Linked DNA regions of Homo sapiens: region 1 is linked to region 2. Evidence: fine-mapped expression QTL. A gene starts in region 2. The other region holds a variant in brackets. All regions are shown on one strand. Distances are between the middles of the regions.

Evidence for each region. PIP is the estimated chance that this variant, and not a neighbour inherited with it, causes the effect.
Region 1: its variant is fine-mapped to the expression of DYRK3 in blood mononuclear cells (TOPMed, PIP 0.95).

What each region holds. Positions count from the first base shown.
Region 1 is chr1:206,654,583-206,662,911 of GRCh38, forward strand. DYRK3 (dual specificity tyrosine phosphorylation regulated kinase 3) reads left to right here. Exons shown (of 3, transcript NM_003582.4): 3 at 1-576. Among named protein-coding and RNA genes, the nearest start is that of DYRK3-AS1, 23 kb to the left of the region's middle. The variant C/T (reference allele first, on the strand shown) is at 4,067.
Region 2 is chr1:206,632,399-206,640,727 of GRCh38, forward strand. DYRK3 (dual specificity tyrosine phosphorylation regulated kinase 3) reads left to right here and starts at 3,138. Exons shown (of 3, transcript NM_003582.4): 1 at 3,138-3,382; 2 at 5,252-5,363. The coding sequence starts at 3,306. It overlaps DYRK3-AS1 (DYRK3 antisense RNA 1), which reads right to left and starts at 3,270. Exons shown (of 2, transcript NR_183645.1): 1 at 3,202-3,270; 2 at 1,798-2,585. RefSeq lists silencers at 2,998-3,417, 3,468-3,577.

The sequences.
Region 1 (8,329 bases), 22 kb after region 2:
AATTTACTTCCAGACCTGGCCTTCAGCCTAATATGATTAGGGTGTTTTTCTGAGTGTCTGTCAAATTATGCTGGCTAATTTCAATGAGAAAAGATTTTAGAGTCACAGTGAACCCATCCATAAAAGGACTAAAAGCTCTCTCTGGTCCCTGAGATCCACAACCCCTGAGAGAAGCCAGAACTACAAATGCATCGTCTAGACTTTGAAGAAGCAGGGTATGATTCTTAATATAGCCCACCCATCGCTAAGTCAAGCCTAGACTCTAATATTTTTCTATAACAGGAGAAGCCTCCCTGACTGGAGACTAGAGTCTCACATCTTCTGCCACCACATGAATAGACTAAAAAGAAAGGAGAGTCCCACATCAGGCCAAGTGGTGACCTGTGGCTATTTCAGCTCAGAATGTCAGCCTCTGAAGCATCAGGTTTGAATGACTTTGGTGTCATGGGATTCTGTCCATTGTCCGTTTGAGTCTGCTGACATGCTTCCTCTGGAAAGTGCAGTTTGGCATGGATGAGTCAGTGGTTTTTTATTTTGGGGTGTTTTTTAAAAAATAAAAATGAATTGCTTTGAGAATTTTTTAGCATCCTGATTGTTTCAAAACCAAGGCTGAGAACTGTCGCAGGCAGGAACTTGTGTGCTGTACTCTGAAGGAGGTGAGTACCAGTCGCTGGGTAATTAGGGCTGTGCTGCAGGTACAGCCTCTCTTGCTTGATGACAATGATACAGAAAGAAAATCTTGGGAAGGGAAAAGGCTGCCCTGAGAAACAGCCTTACAGAGAGTCCACCAGTATTCTTCCTTTAGTACCCAGAGCTTCTGTTCACAGTCTGGTTTGTGAGCTCCAGCCTTGCTGTGAAGGAAAATGGGAAAACATGTAGAGTGCTCAGGGCTAACCATCTCCCAGAAACCCGAATCAGCAGCTCTCCCATTTACCCTCTTGGGGCCCAAGCTCAGCTTAAGGATGAAACCTGACACGCAATAAGGAATACAGTTTATTTGGGAAGTTTGGGTGTTTTTCTTAGGCCCAGACCCCAGTCTGTGGGATAACTTTTAAAGCCTGAGGGAATTGAGTAAATGAAAGAGGAAAACAATGTTCTTAGGGGTTGTGGGCTCTGCTCCAGCCTGCTTCTGATCTGGCCCTGAGCCACAATTGCCCTGGCAACAGGAGCTAATTGGATACCTAACAGGGACTGCCTTCCGCCACCCTTGAGTTGTCCCCTAGATTGTTGTGGCACGAATACAGTTCACTCCAGCCTTAACCTCCCTGGCCTCAGGTGATCCTCCCACTGCAGCCTCCCAAGTAGCTGGGACTACAGGCATGTATCACCATGCCCAGCTAATTTTATGTATTTATTTTTATTTTGAAGATGGAGTTTCACTCTGTTGCCTAGGCTGGAGTGCAGTGGCACGATCTCGGCTCACTGCAGCCTCTGCCTCCCAGGTTAAATGATTCTCCTGCCTCAGCCTCCCAAGTAGCTGGGACCACAGGCATGCGCCATAACACCCAGCTAATTTTTTGTATTTTTGATAGGGATGGGGTTTCACCATGTTGGCCAGGCTGGTTTTGAACTCCTGACGGGTAATCCACCCGCCTCGGCCTCCCAAAGTGTTGGGATTACAAGCATGAAACACCACGCCTGGCCAATTTTTTGTGTGCTTGTGCATTTTTTTTTTTTTTTTTTTTTTGTAAAGATGGGGTTTCACCACGTTGGCCAGGCTGGTCTCGAACTCCTGGCCTCAAGCCATCTGCCCATCTCAGCCTCCCAAAGTGCTGGGATTATAGGCATGAGCCACTGTTCTCAGCTTTCCCTGGATTCTTGAACAGGGTTTCTGCCTTATGGGACCCCAGCCTAAAGCTAGACATGGACCTTCCTATACTCACATGGAGCAACTCCAGGTTGGAGACATTAATTGCTGCTAGCGGAATTATAGAGCAGGCAGAATTTAAAAGAAAATTCAGCTTGCAATATCGCTGTTAAAATTTACCCATGATCAGGCCGGGTGCGGCGGCTCAAGCCTGTAATCCCAGCACTTTGGGAGGCCGAGGCGGGTGGATCACCTGAGGTCAGGAGTTCAAGACCAGCCTGGCCAACACAGTGAAACCCTGTCTCTACAAAAAATACAGAAGATTAGCTGGATGTGGTGGCACACACCTGTAATCCCAGCTACACGGGAGGCTGAGGCAGGAGAATCGCTTGAACCCAGGAGGCGGAGGTTGCAGTGAGCCGAGGTTGCACTCCAGCCCGGGCAACAGTGGGAGACTCTGTCTCGAAAACAAAACAAAACAACAAAAACCCCATGATCAAAGGCACCACAAACCAGGATACTCCCATGGCTCTTTATGCCTTTTAAGACAAAAACTATCAGCGCGTAGAAAAGGCAGTGAAAATGGCAATGAGGGCTACTAGTGCATTGCCCATTGCTTTTTACTTTCTAGGAAGGAATTTGTCAGTCCAAAAGCAGAAACATAAAGTGACTGCAGCTAGTCTGTGCAGATGCTAAGGACTGACCTTGACCTTCCAGTAGAGTGAGCCTGGACATGATTTGACCTCGTTTTGCAGAGGCTGCCCAGCCCTGCCTTTGAATCTGGCTGTTGATGATCTCCTGATTGAGGAGCAGATCCAGGACACCCAATCTGAACCACTGCAGAGAATTCTTAATCATTCCCAGGGTGGAGCCCTGACCCAAGCTGCACTCACTTTTGCTGTTCTCAAGCATGTCTATATAGGCTTTTGTTGGTGCATTGATTCTTTCACCAGTGACTTGAGCAACTGTTGTGTGCAAAAAAAGCACCCTAATGGCATTTATCAAGGATAGGGAGCGTCAGCAGCATTGTTGACCATATGTTTAGAATCTAACAAAAGCTAGGCCATGGCTTTAGAGAAAACTTGCCAGCAAGTTATCTGCACTCTGTTCTGGTTTAAAATTTGTGTAACTCTGTAAGTGAATGGGATGGGGAGGGGAGATAGTTTCAGAAGAGAATGTTCTCTGAGTCTGTGCATAGTATAGAGTAAGGGGCTTGTGTCCTGAGCTGAAGGTGGAGGAGAAAAGATGGTAGGAATGAAAGGCATGGAAGACATGCTATCCAGTAGCAACTTGGCTCTCACCACCCTCCGTTTCTGACGTTGAAGATGAAATGGGGTTACCCTTCAGGTTTCTCTGCCATGATTTCAGATCAGGGGTTTGGCTTTTTCTGCTCCCTCATCAAACTGATTCTATCCCAGATTAGCCATCCTGAGATCTGCAGGGGAGGAGGAACCAGCAGACCAGGCTTCCCTACTTCTCTTCCCCACTTCTCTTCCCCGATTCCCTCATTTCCCTCAACAAGTAGCTGGCTGCGTTGCTGTTTTCTCTGGTTGCTAAAACAACATTGCTTACTTCTGTCCCACCAACAATCCCAGCCAGAGACTTGAGACTGAGGTGAATACACGAGATGAATTCAGAAACCTCATCCCTGAGATCTTTCACCCGAGTTTTTGAGCCAGCGTCCCACATTGTCCTGGTTCCATTCCCCTCTCAGCAAACACTCTTCATTCATCCCTTTTCCCGTTGGAACTGAAGTCACTAGTTGCTGTAAAATGCCAGCGAGATGTCCAGGCAAAGTGGCATGAGTGAGAGGGAGGAGGCTTCAGAGCTCTTTGGAGGACCAAGAAGCGCAATGGACCACAGGTGCTTCCCCTCAATGCTGCTAAAATAATGAGGGGCAGGCGCTTCCGTGGTGGGTCTTCCTGCAGTCACAACTGTTTCCCAACCGCTGTGTCACACACTCTACTGCTACCCCTTCCTAGCCCAACCTGGCCTGGGGCAGCTGCATTTCAAAGAGAGGACTTCCTCTGTTCTTTATTTAGTCCCAGGCTTAAATTCTACTACATTCAGAAGGGGAGGCGCCGCTGTCGCTGGGAAAGCTGGGCCGGGGCCGGAGGGAGACACAAGGCGGAGATTTCCCAGACCACAGAGTCGAAGTTGTAAAGTTAGAAACCTGGTAGGGAACAGCTGCGGGAGCCTCCTGGGTGGGAAATGTCCTACCTCCCCAACCCCTGCGGCTGCACTTTCACGGGGCTCCCC[C/T]CAGGGGGCGCCAGGCCCCGCCTCCACCTTTCTCTGCCTTCTCTTCAGTCGCTCAGTAAATGCCCAGTGTACTCGGTGGGCCAGGCGCTGTGCTGGATCTATTCAAACATAACACACATATTTAATGGAAGGTCAAACATGTTAAGAATTGAAGTACAGTGAGATACATATGATGGTAGACATGAACTAGTGTCCTAGCCAAGTGTTCCTCAAAAGACCCATTCGGACGAAGCGTCCCTCACTAGCCATGACCATTTACTTCTCTTTGTTTCCCTTCTTTCTACCCTAGCCACCACCCCGCAGCACCAGTGACCACTCACTATCTCCAGTGCCTTCTGCCTCAGAGATTGCGAATGAATGGTGCCCAGGCTCTTCCCAGCTGAAGAAGTGGGAGGCAGAGTGCCCAGCTGGAGAGACCAAGCACCCGTCCCTTTAGTTCACAGCAGAGCCAGGGTTTATGACCCCTCCCTGCTGCGACCAACCCCACCCCGCCCCCACTGCCGTGTTTACAGCGCCTTTTCAGCAGTCCCCATCCCACTCCCCAAAGCTGCCAAATGGGTTTATTTTTACCTACTGGGTTGGAAAAGGGGCAAAGGCTGAGGCTGGGGCAGTTCTGTGGCGCCAGCTGGGGCTTAAATACAATGAGAAAGTCCCACCCTGCCAGCTCTGCGTGAAGAGAACCCAGTAGGAAATAAATAGCGCTGTGTGGCCTGCCTGGATGCCTGACCTGCATATGTCTGCCTGGACTCCAGCCCGTCACATGAGCCGAGGCGGGTTAAAAAGAGAGGTCGGGTGATCTCCCAGCTCAGGTATCTGTCCTGGCATGAGGAGCTGTGGGGTGAGGGTGCCAGCTCTTCTTTACAGGGCCTGGTGGACAGGGAGGCCCAGTGGGCAGGGGCAATTCGGGCCAGGGAGGGAGTGGGCCAGGAAGGGAGCCGGACAGGCGGACTTTGCCCCAGTGCCAGTCCGCCTCCAGCTATCAGCCTCCAGCTGTGGGCACTGGGAAAGGGTGATAACGTTCGTAAGGACACTGTGACTGCCTAACGTTGGTAAGGGCAGATGACTGGAAGGGAGAAAAAGCTTGGCAGAAGTTCCAGGACTAAATCTTAATTTGGCCAAAGCCGTTGTTTCCGTCACACCCCACCCGGTGCGTGCGCGCGCACACACACACACACACACACACACACACACACACACACACCATTGCATATCTTTTTCTTTCCCATAGCTTTGACCCCCTTCATGCATTCCTGCCCCCTCCTCCACCCCTTCCAGCTCAGAATGCTAGCATCTGCCTATCTCCAGCAACACAGACACTTCTCCCTCCTCCCACGCCTCTCTCCTGGGACTCAGGCCTGTGGCTGCTTCTCCTTTCTAGGCCTCAGTTTCCCCTTAGGCAGCATGTCTCAGATCCCACTCCCAGGGCCCTCTAGGCAATTTAGGCCAGGAGACAGTGGGAGGCTCCTGGGAGAAGTTTCACTTCTTTTTACTGAAGTTCCAGAACTAGGTTAAAGGATTCAGCAAGCTGAAGACCTCCCTGTTCAGATCTGAGTTCCCTGAGATGTTGGGGGACCTTGAGTCAAGAGGCTCATTTGCTCAGATCCTGTTGCTGAGGAAAGTACCACATATATTGTGGTTGGACCAGTGCAACCCCCAGAACACCTGTTCATTGCAGTGGGTTGGCTGGATAGGGGCGTCTAGGGATCCTGAAGGGACAGAAAACTTGCTCTGTGGGATGATACAGTGCTGTGGAATGGGGAGTGGAGGGAACAGGAGTTGTCGTAGGCCCCAAGATGCCTGAACTCCAGGAGCCCGAGCTAGAGCGATGGCCATGGCATGGGCAGGCAGGACACATTCAATAGCTCTCAACTAGATAATAGTTTTTTTTTGTTTTTTTTTTTTTTGAGATGGAGTTGTGCTCTTGTCGCCCAGGCTGGAGTACAATGGTATGATCTTGGCTCACTGTGACCTCTGCCTCCCGGGTTCAAAGATTCTCCTGCCTCAGCCTCCCAAATAGCTGGGATTCAAGCATGCACCACCACGCCTGGCTTATTTTTTGTATTTTTAGTAGAGACGGGGTTTCACCATGTGGGCCAGGCTGGTCTCGAACTCCTGACCTCAAGTGATCTGCCTGCCTTTGCCTCCCAAAGTGCTGGGATTACAGGCATAAGCCACCATACCCGGCCAATAGAATTTTTTCAAGAGAGAAATTGTCCCTCCTCTGTAAAAAACCAACTACAAGTTTACATATCTAATTGGTCTAGAAAAACAGTGGACATATAGGGAGGGAAACCAGTATAATTTGTAATTTCAAGGACTATTCTGGAACTCCAGACTCCATGGAGATTAATCCTAACACTGGGGACAAATGCCCATTTTCTCTGGTTGGGAAATTTAAGAAATCAAGGTGGAACTGGGCTATATGCAGAAGCATCTGACTTCCTGGAATATAATCAACAAATGTGATTCTGAGCCAGGTTGGGATCAATGCACCAATGTCAAGCAGGCATCTGGGGAGCCCTGACAACATGGAGCTAGATGTGGGGGTCAGAGACATTCCTGAGGGTACTGTATCTAATCCCCCTCAAGGTAGGATAACTGGGTAGTCGAAAGAAGACACCATTTATAAAATGTGGGCAGGGTTTCGGGAAACTACTAAGGGACAGTGAAGTACACCCAGGATAGCCACATGGGGCAGAAGGAAGGGAGTGGTTGCTGGAATCTTAGCGAGCAATAGCGGTGGATGAGGTTGTAGGAGAGAGCTGCCTGCCTGACAGAAGCTGTGGCTTTTGGTAGAGGATGGCAGGCACTGCAACCTCTGGAGAGTGGGGAGAAATCACGGGAATAAATGTGCTGGCCTCATCCTAGTGCCAGCTTATCTTACTCCTGTGCCTCCCATTGGCCTAACTTAATCGGAAGCCACGTCTGGTTGGCATAGTCAAAAAATGCCATCCTTGGCCAGGTGCGGTGGCTCACACCTGCGGTCCCAGCACTTTGGGAGGCCAAGGTGGGAGGATCACTTGAGCCCATGAGTTCAAGACCAGCCTGGGCAACATAGTGAGATCCCCATCACTAAAAAAAAAAAAAAAAAAAAAAAAATGCCATCCTCGTGGCACACAGAGCACAGTGTAGAAGGGTGGAGAGTGGATCCAGAGGGGCGAAGAGTATATATAGCAAATCTCTATGCTCCTAAGCAGGCAATTTCATCAGCATCAAGAAACTTTAATTTTTTTTTTCTTTACGGCCAGGCGCAGTGGCTCATGCCTGTAATCCCAGCACTTTGGGAGGCTGAGGCGGGTGGATCACAAGGTCAAGAGATCGAGACCATCCTGGCCAACATGGTGAAACCCCGTCTCTACTAAAAATACAAAAATTAGCTGGGCATGGTGGTGTGCACCTGTAGTCCCAGCTACTTTAGACTACAGGCACGCACCACCATGCCCAGCTAATTTTTTTGTTTGTTTTGGTAGATATGGGGTCTTGCTATGTTGCTCATGCTGATTTTGAACTTCTAGCCTCAAGCAATCCTCCCAACTTGGCCTCCCAAAGTGCAGGGATTAGTGAGCCACTGCACCCACCCGGCAGTAAACATTTTTTTGAGCACAAACCATGCACAGCCATTTTGCCGTGTACCAAGGATAAAACGCAGAAATGGATTTTCAGCAACCTGGTAGTCCAGCTGGGAGACAGAAGCAGAAGTGTTCAGGGAAGGCTTCATGGAAGAAGTGGGAATGTGAGACGGGGTGGAGGAGGGGATTGGAGGACAGGTGAGCAGAGCGCTGGGAGTACTTTCCTTCACTGTAGCAGAATGTCATTCAGCAACATGATCCACCCCAAGGTCAAGTTTCAGATCTTCCATCCCTGAGATTTTACATAATAGGCATGGTTAAAGATCCCCATGTGACTGTAGCCATGTGACTCCACATATTATGTCCACCTCACCTGGGAAGGATCAGTTTACCTAAATGTCATTCCTGCTGGGTTCTCTGAATGACAGCTGTCTTCCAACTCCAAGAGTGATGTCCTAATTAATCAAGCAATCCATCAATAAAAATTCACCGGCCTCATAAGTAAAAGGCACTGGGAACTTGGGCTACACCTCTTCAGAGCACCTCTTCTTCTCAATGAACTCACATTCTAACAGAACAGAGATATGTAGAAATGATTAAAGTGTGTTTGGTAGGAGGTGTAATGGAGGTACGAGTAAAGTTCTGGGAAAATGCAGTGGAGAGAGTGACTCATTCCTAGAGGTGTTAAAAAAAG
Region 2 (8,329 bases):
GAATTTCAGTTCATCACTTACTGGCTGGGTGACCTTGGGCAAGTTATTAAACTCTGAGACTGTTTTCTGAAGTGTAGGATGGAGATAATACCTATCTCACGGGACTACTGTGAGTTTTAAATGAGCAAATATGTTAAAGTGCTTCAGATAGTGCTTGGAACATAATAAATACTTAGCAAATGGTAATGATGATTAGAAAGACTCCTGGTTTGGTTTCAAGATTTCAGAAATGAAGCTTCATAGGACCCCTCAGGGCTATAGGTGGAACTGGTCACGCTGACTTAGGAGGAACAAGTGGAAAAAGATGGCAAAAGTTTTGGAAAAGAAAAATAGGTGAAGAGTTTGTGATAATAAGGACAACCTTTAGGGTTTAGGAGACACAGAACTAAGTGTGTCTTAGTTGTAGCTGTACTACAGCACTGCGGGCATGGCTTTTGTTTGCTTTGTTAATAAGGGGCATTTTTCAAATCTTGGTGGAGAGGGGAGGGCATAAGAACAGGAGATGCCTGAGGTATAGAAGAGAGACAGTTTTCTGAGGCTCCAGAAAAATAAGCCATGGCTTTAGTGTTCCAGTGAGCTAGATTTCAGTGTTTCTGAAAAAAATAGCAAGTATACATTTCAGGAACACGGGTCAATTTGAGGTTAACATAGCTTGAGGAAAAAAGTAAGTTTCACTGGTTCTCTCCAGTGATTTTTAAAAAATATTTTCCAATTCTGTGATGCACATGTCACAGTAGGCATTATGGCACATTTTGCTGTACAGAAATGTCAATGAAACTTGTCCAAACTTAACATAACCTACTAACAGCTATTTTATCACAAAATTCCAGGTAAATGTGGCCACGGGGATGTTTTCTTAATCTGTGCATTTGAAACTTTGATCACATTGTGAATGTCCCAGTGGGTTTTTAAGATCCTGGAATAGTTGCATCTTTTTTACTGTTGTTTATTTCCTTAGTCAATGTATTAGAACTTGCAGGTACCTTATTTTGCAGATGTCTTGGAATTGGCTTCAAAGGACAGACATGCATCTTATATGACTTTTGGCTAATTCATGGTGGGTAAATCTGACTTTAACTGCATGGAGAATGATAATGGTGATTTTAAACTACTCTTGAATGAGGCTTTGGAGGGGAAGAAAGGGCATGAATGATGTGGAAGCTGCTTGGGAGCTGGAGGGGACAGGGCAGCGCTCAGCAGGGGTGTGGAGGCTCCTGCCAGATCCCTTATGGGACGTTAACCCCATCATACAGGGGATCTTTGAAGAAACATTGGGTCACTAAGGTCAGAGATTTATGAAGCTCCAGCACCCTCGAGGAGTCCTCTTTCCCTTGACCATGGGAACAATAGGCGAAAGACAAAGGCGGCCTCTGTATTTCCCACCTTAGGAGCAAGAAAGGGAGCAGGAACCCTTCCACTTGGCTCTGGAAGATGTGTCTTAAGCACAGACTGCGGATGCAATCCTCTCACGAGCAGTGATTCAGAATGAGGTAAGAAATCATGTGGGGGCAAGTCTCATTCAACTGTTTAGGGAGGGCAGTAAAGTGGTCTGAGGTGTCTACATAAGTACTGAGAACGGGGATTATTTAATAGAATTTTGCAATCTTAGAGCTGGAAGGGACTTCAACAGTAACCTCGTCCAATCTTTGCGTTGCCATGGAACTCTTTCTTCAAACAAAAGCTTCGTAAGAGCCCAAATACAAACCCCTGTGAAAGCAGAATTGCTCTGGTTGCAAAGTGGGGGAAGGGAGAGACAAAAAGAAAAAGTTTATTTATAAAATAAACTTTAAAAAATCATCATGGAAGAAAACTTTTTTATTTATATGTATATCATAGAAAGGCTAAAGTAACATTGATCACAAAAAATAAAATTCCCCAAACCAATAGATTATTAGTTTATACAGTGAAGATACTTTGGCTCTTTAGGGACATTTTTACTTGGAGTCACGAGAACAGAGAATATGACTTTTAGTCACACGGAAATGAGCCTTGGATGGGAATTTTTAAGATTTATGGGAACTGTGTGCTATGCTGATTTGGGACAATAAGCGTTCTAGTCCCACCAGGTGGCGCCCGCGTTCGGCATTCTGAGAACGTTTGGTGTCTTCTGGACTCCAGAATCTGGACGGTCCGACCGCCTCGTGCTTGGTGGGTTTACAAACTCTGACTGGTTCTTACCACCCATCTAACAGGAAATTTTTTTTTTTTAAAAACAAACCAACCCATAAAACATCTGACCAGATGCCACACTCAAGAAAACACTTGTATTCGGGTGTTTTAACCTCCAACGATGGAAATCTGCTTAACATTGGTGTTTCTGAGGTGTCTTAGCATCAGAAAAGGAAAAAGACACATATACACACATTCTAAGGAAAAAGTCAGGAAGGGCCTTGCAGAGGTAGGTCCTGGTGCGGCAAGAGGACGGTTAGGCGTTAGAAGCTTCTAGTTCAGGCTTTGCCGCTTCATGCTCATGAGGAAGCGCGGCTCCTTTGGCCTCAGTTTCCTGCGCTGCCTTCCCGTCTGTGGCTGACTGTTGCAGGGTAGTCAGACAAAGGCCCAGCTTCTATTCTGCATCCCAGCTAAGTCTGTAAAAGACGAAAGTCGTCGGGTACCTCCGTTACTGAGATCAAATGTTCATAAATGGAAGCATCGTGTCAATAAATGGGTTTATTATTATTGCTTTCTTATGTAACTCACCAACCCCCGGAGGGCCGTCCCCGCGGTGGGAAAGCCTAAAACAATACACATATGTTTTCACTAATTTAAAATTCATATTGAAGCGGGACGTTTTAGAACTTCCAGGACGCAACGTGCTATTAAGGGACCGTGAGGGGCGGGCAGCCCTTCTGAGATCGCGGGCTAACTGCTACTTTCACCCCTCCTTCTCCGGACCCCTCTCTCCGTCTACAGCTCGCGCCAGGGACCCAAACAGCCTAGGCCGCGAGCTCCTCGCCTCCAACCTCCCGCCTCCCGCGCCAGTACTAGCACCCGCTAGGAGCGCCGCGTGGCCTTTACCGGCCACGGGCCCCGCCCCTGTGCGTCAGCCCGTAGCTGCGCCGAGGCGTTTCCCGGGGGCGTGCCGCGGTTGCTAGGCGACCAGACCGCTCCCCCTCCCGCCCCTGGAGCTGCGTCTCCCCACTTCCCAGCCGGGGCCAGTCGGGAGCGAAAGTGCGCTGAGCTGCAGTGTCTGGTCGAGAGTACCCGTGGGAGCGTCGCGCCGCGGAGGCAGCCGTCCCGGCGTAGGTGGCGTGGCCGACCGGACCCCCAACTGGCGCCTCTCCCCGCGCGGGGTCCCGAGCTAGGAGATGGGAGGCACAGCTCGTGGGCCTGGGCGGAAGGATGCGGGGCCGCCTGGGGCCGGGCTCCCGCCCCAGCAGCGGAGGTAACGGCGCCACGGGGTAACGGGCTGGAGGCGCCACAGGGAGCGGCTGGCGCTGGCAAGCGAAGCTTGGGGGTGGGGAGGAGGTAGAGTGAGCCCTCAGTAGGAGGGACGAGGGCAGGGGTCTGACTGCCTCCCCGGGACCGCCCCCACCTCCTCTCTATCAGGGCCCCCTCCCCCCATCCCTGTCTCACCGGGCGCGGGGGACGGGGCTAGAGCGGAGTTAGAGCAAGAAGAATTTCCACCCCTGGATTCCCTCTGAAACCCTAGATCGGGGTATATGTTAAGGGATTACGAAAATCTAGGACTTTTTGTGGGGCTTTTTATTAAAGGGGGGGAGCCCGGGAGCAATACCTTGGAAAGAAGCCCTGTTGCTTAGAGCGGATAACCAACGGCTGAACTCTTGGGGTTTGCTGTGAGGGGTGCGGTCTAGCTTCGAATGTACAGGTTATGGGCTATGCTGGGTACGGCTTTCTCCGGATCCTATTTTGAGAGATTCCCCACCTTGCGTTGTATTTTACACCTAAATGGAGAGAAGAGACCCTTGCTCCCCGCTTTATTTGCATGCAGACTCTTGTTAATTTCCTCTGGCTGTTAGTCACTAGGCAATTTTGCACGTTTTCTTTTTCTTTATATATGTGGACGCCTATCCTGGTTTGTTTTATCAGGCTTATGGCAAAGGGTCAGTCACATCCAGAATATTTGGTTTCTGTTGGTGAAGCCATTCCCTGTTAAAAATATAAATAATTCTATCAGAATGTGAGCATGTTTTTAAAAAGAGCATTCCAAAAATATTTGTAGCGGTTTTTTTCCCTTTATATTTTTATAACACATCTATAAAGAAAACTCTAGAATGAATTTCACAAAACAGTTTTTAAGGTGACCAGAATATTCCAGGATATTTTAAAAGACGTTAAAAAATTATTCCTCTGCAACATCATCATTGTTATATTCATAGTGTATCATGTAAAATGATACAATGAAATGCTGATGTGTGTAACTGGGAAATCCGTGTTCTTGGTAGCAGATGAAATACATTATTCAGGGCCATCTTGTGGATTAAATAAATCCTCTCCGTCTTTTGTGTTCCCTTACAGTGGTGGAGCCACAGTGTTAAAGAACAGAGAAGTGATCCTTAATCATTTAGAATTTTGCCTCCACCATCCACCAGAAAATGAAGTGGAAAGAGAAGTAAATTCAATACATTTTATAATTTAGAGCATCCTTTTAGCGTTTGCTGTAGTACTTACTGTATTTTTCTGCAGGTTAGGTAGATGTAAGTAGGTAAGTAAGTAAATGAATAAAGAGAAGACAGCCTTAAAAAGGCCTTTTATTTCTTGCCTGTAAGACCCAGAAGTGTGAAGACTGGAGCTAGTCTTCCCATTAACATGGGGAAGACAGGCTCAGAGGAGAAGGTAGCACTGGGGAAGACAGGCTCAGAGGAGAAGGTAGCACAGCCAGTGTTAGAGCTGAGATTAGAATCCAAGTCTCTGACTTGAGAAACTATTACCTCTGTTAGTTTTTTCTGGTCTGTTTTTTTCTCTGTGAGCTTCAGTTTCAAACTAGCCTTTATTTTCAAGTAGTAAGTTATTATGAGATCCTTCTGATAGTCCTTATTGTGTTTAACAACATTCAGAAGGACTTGTTTCAACTGTTTTAAAATACAAACCTAGAAATGCTGTCCTTGAAAAACAAAAGTTGGATTTCCTCTGTACCTCTTCCAAATACCCCAGTTGTTTGTATTCAGTGCCAAAATGTAGTGTAGACATTTATTTCTATTACTGTTCCTTGTAGCAGATATGAAGCAGTTAAGACATAGGATTCTATATTCTTCAGTTCCTGACAGATTTTGTCTGTAATCCTTTTAACTAGGTTGGGGGATGGTGTCTATGACACCTTCATGATGATAGATGAAACCAAATGTCCCCCCTGTTCAAATGTACTCTGCAATCCTTCTGAACCACCTCCACCCAGAAGACTAAATGTAAGTAAAAGAAGTCATTCTTTGTACATGAATTGTTTTGGAAAGGAGGAAGTGCTACTTAATGCTCAAGGTACACTTATGTATCACTGACAACCAGACTTTTTTTTGGTTTATTTTTGATTTCTCTTGACTTTGGAATAACAATGTCTGTGGTCCAAATTTAGCTTTTCAGAATGATTTCAGTTTGGAGCTCACCTTTTTATTTCAGTTTCCACTGGGATAAATATATAGCACTAGGAAAAAAATAATATGCTACTTTTATTTAGGTAATGCTTATTTTTGTATAGGATGATATACACCTAGTATTACAAAGGCTCCTTTTAACAAAAATAAGAAACAGAAAACATGTCAGAATTCATAGATCTGCAGGAGTTTTTTTTCCCCTGCACGGTGGAAATGCAGTCTTCGTTTATTAGTATACTAAAGAGAACCATTTTATAGATAGATGATAACTACAACAGTTTGGTTTTTAATGCACTTAATCATTTTGGGGACTGCAGACACTTAGCTTTTTTTTTTTTTTTTTTTTTTTTGAGGTGGAGTCTCTCTCTGTCACCCAGGCTGGAGTGCAATGGCATGATCTTGGCTCACTGCAACCTCTGCCTCCCGGGTTGAAGTGATTCTCCTGCCTTAGCCTCCTGAGTAGCTGGGATTACAGGCGCGTGCCACCACGCCTGGCTAATTTTTGTATTTTTAGTAGTCAGGGGTTTCACCATGTTGGTCAGGCTGGTCTTGAACTCCTGACCTCGTGATCCACCCGCCTCGGCTTCCCAAAGTGCTGGGATTACAGGCGTGAGCCACCGTGCTTGGCAGCTTTTTTTTTTTTTTAACTTAAGATAAAATTAATTTGCATTCCTTCAGCATGCATAGAGTGGTAGGCAGAGCAGGGTTTGGCCAAGTTCCATGACAAAGAGAGGCTATCCTATGACTTTAAAATTTCCTGCATATGTCATCAGATGAACAAACTGAATAATTGAATTGACTCATTTGTAATATTTCTCTTTCACGTTTCTGTGTTTAAGACCTGAAATTGTTTCTATATGGAAAAATCACTTCTATTTTTCATAGTCCTTCCTGTGGTCATCAGTTTTTGCTTAAAATCAACCTTTTTCCTTTTTTTTTTTTTTTTTTTTCCTGAGACGCAGTCTTACTCTGTCTTCCAGGCTGGAGTGCAGTGGTGTCATGTCAGCTCATTGCAACCTCCACCTCCCGGGTCCAAGCAATTCTCCTGCCTCAGCCTTCCTGAGTAGCTGGGATTACAGGCGACTGCCACCACACCCAGCTAAGTTTTGTATTTTTAGTAGAGACAGGGTTTCACCATGTTAGTCAGGCTGGTCTAACTCCTGACCTTAAGTGGTCCACTTCCCTCGGCCTCTGGAAGTGCTGGGATTACAGGCGTGAGCCACCGCACCCGGCCCTTTCCCCACTTTCAACACTAGTAGTATACAAAACGTGAGCTAAAAATATTTTGAAGGCTGGTCACCCTATTTTTCGTCCCCTTTTTGGAGTGTAGTGGGGTTTCTTTCCATTCTTTGCAAGTTGTTTCTTTAATATGTCAAAATGTCTAAGAACTTCAGAACCATATACATCTTGTGTTGCCCATCAGATTGCTTGGTTACTTGCTGCCAATTGGTTCACCTCTATAGGAAACTATTTGCAATTGGGTTGAAGTGTTAACATCTGACTTTAAGTCATTTTAACTGATTTTTTTTTTTTTTTTTTTTGAGATGGACTCTCACTCTGTCACCTAGGCTGGAGTGCAGTGGCGCAATCTTGGCTTACTGCAACCTCCCGGGTTCAAGTGATTCTCCTGCTTCACCCTCCCAAGTAGCTGGGATTATAGGCACCAACCAACATGCCTGGCTAATTTTTGTATTTTTAGTAGAGATGGGGTTTCACTGTATTGGTCAGGCTGGTTTTGAACTCCTGACCTTGTGATGCACCCACCTCAGCTCCCCAAAGTGCTGGGATTACAGGCGCAAGCCACCGCGCCCAGCCAAGTCATTTTTACTTTGATTCAGAGTTAGCCGATGCTATTTACCTTCCAGTAGGTTACTTACATTGTATGTTTCAGGATCAAAAATTAATTTCTTACTGCATGGTGTTAGGCATGACAGTTTTGTGAGGGAGCAAGAAGATTTTAGATGTCTTACTCATTACTCATTTCTTTTTTTTTTTTTTTTTTTTTTTTGAGACCGAGTCTCGCTCTCTCGCCCAGGCTGGAGTGCAGTGGCACAATCTTGGCTTGCTGCAACCTCCATCTCCCGGGTTCAAGCAGTTCTCCCTGCCTCAGCCTCCCAAGTAGCTGGGATTACAGGCATCTGCCACCATGCCTGGCTAATTTTTGTATTTTTAGTAGAGATGGGGTTTCACCATGTTGGCCAGGATGGTCCCGAACCCCTGACCTCAGGTCATCCACCCACCTCAGCCTCCCAAAGTGCAGGCTTTACAGGCGTGAGCCACCACGCCTGGCTGTCTTTACTCATTTTGCTGAAAAAGAAAATAAAAATAAAAAATGCCTTTTGACCTCTTGGTGCCACTTACATTTCATTATGCCATGACTCTATCCCGAGATCCTGTTACTTTTTTTTACAAAGTTTTCTAGCTTCATTTATTCAAGATGCTCCTACATTCTCATGGTAAACTATAAATCATCTGCCCATAGGCTTTTATTGGGTTAAGTTTTGTGTTACAGGGATTTAGGGTTTGGGAGCTGGGGAAAAGGTAGGGTTTTATATCTGAGTGAGAAGGATATTCCTTTATTCCTTTTCAATTTCTCAGCAAGATTTTTTTTTTTTTTTTTTTTTAAGACAGAGTCTCGCTCTGTCACTGAGGCTGGAGTGCAGTGGCACTATCTCGGCTCATTGCAAGCTCCGCCTCCTGGGTTCATGCCATTCTCCTGCCTCAGCCTCCCGAGTAGCTGGGACTACAGGCACCCACCACCACACCTGGCTAATTTTTTGTAT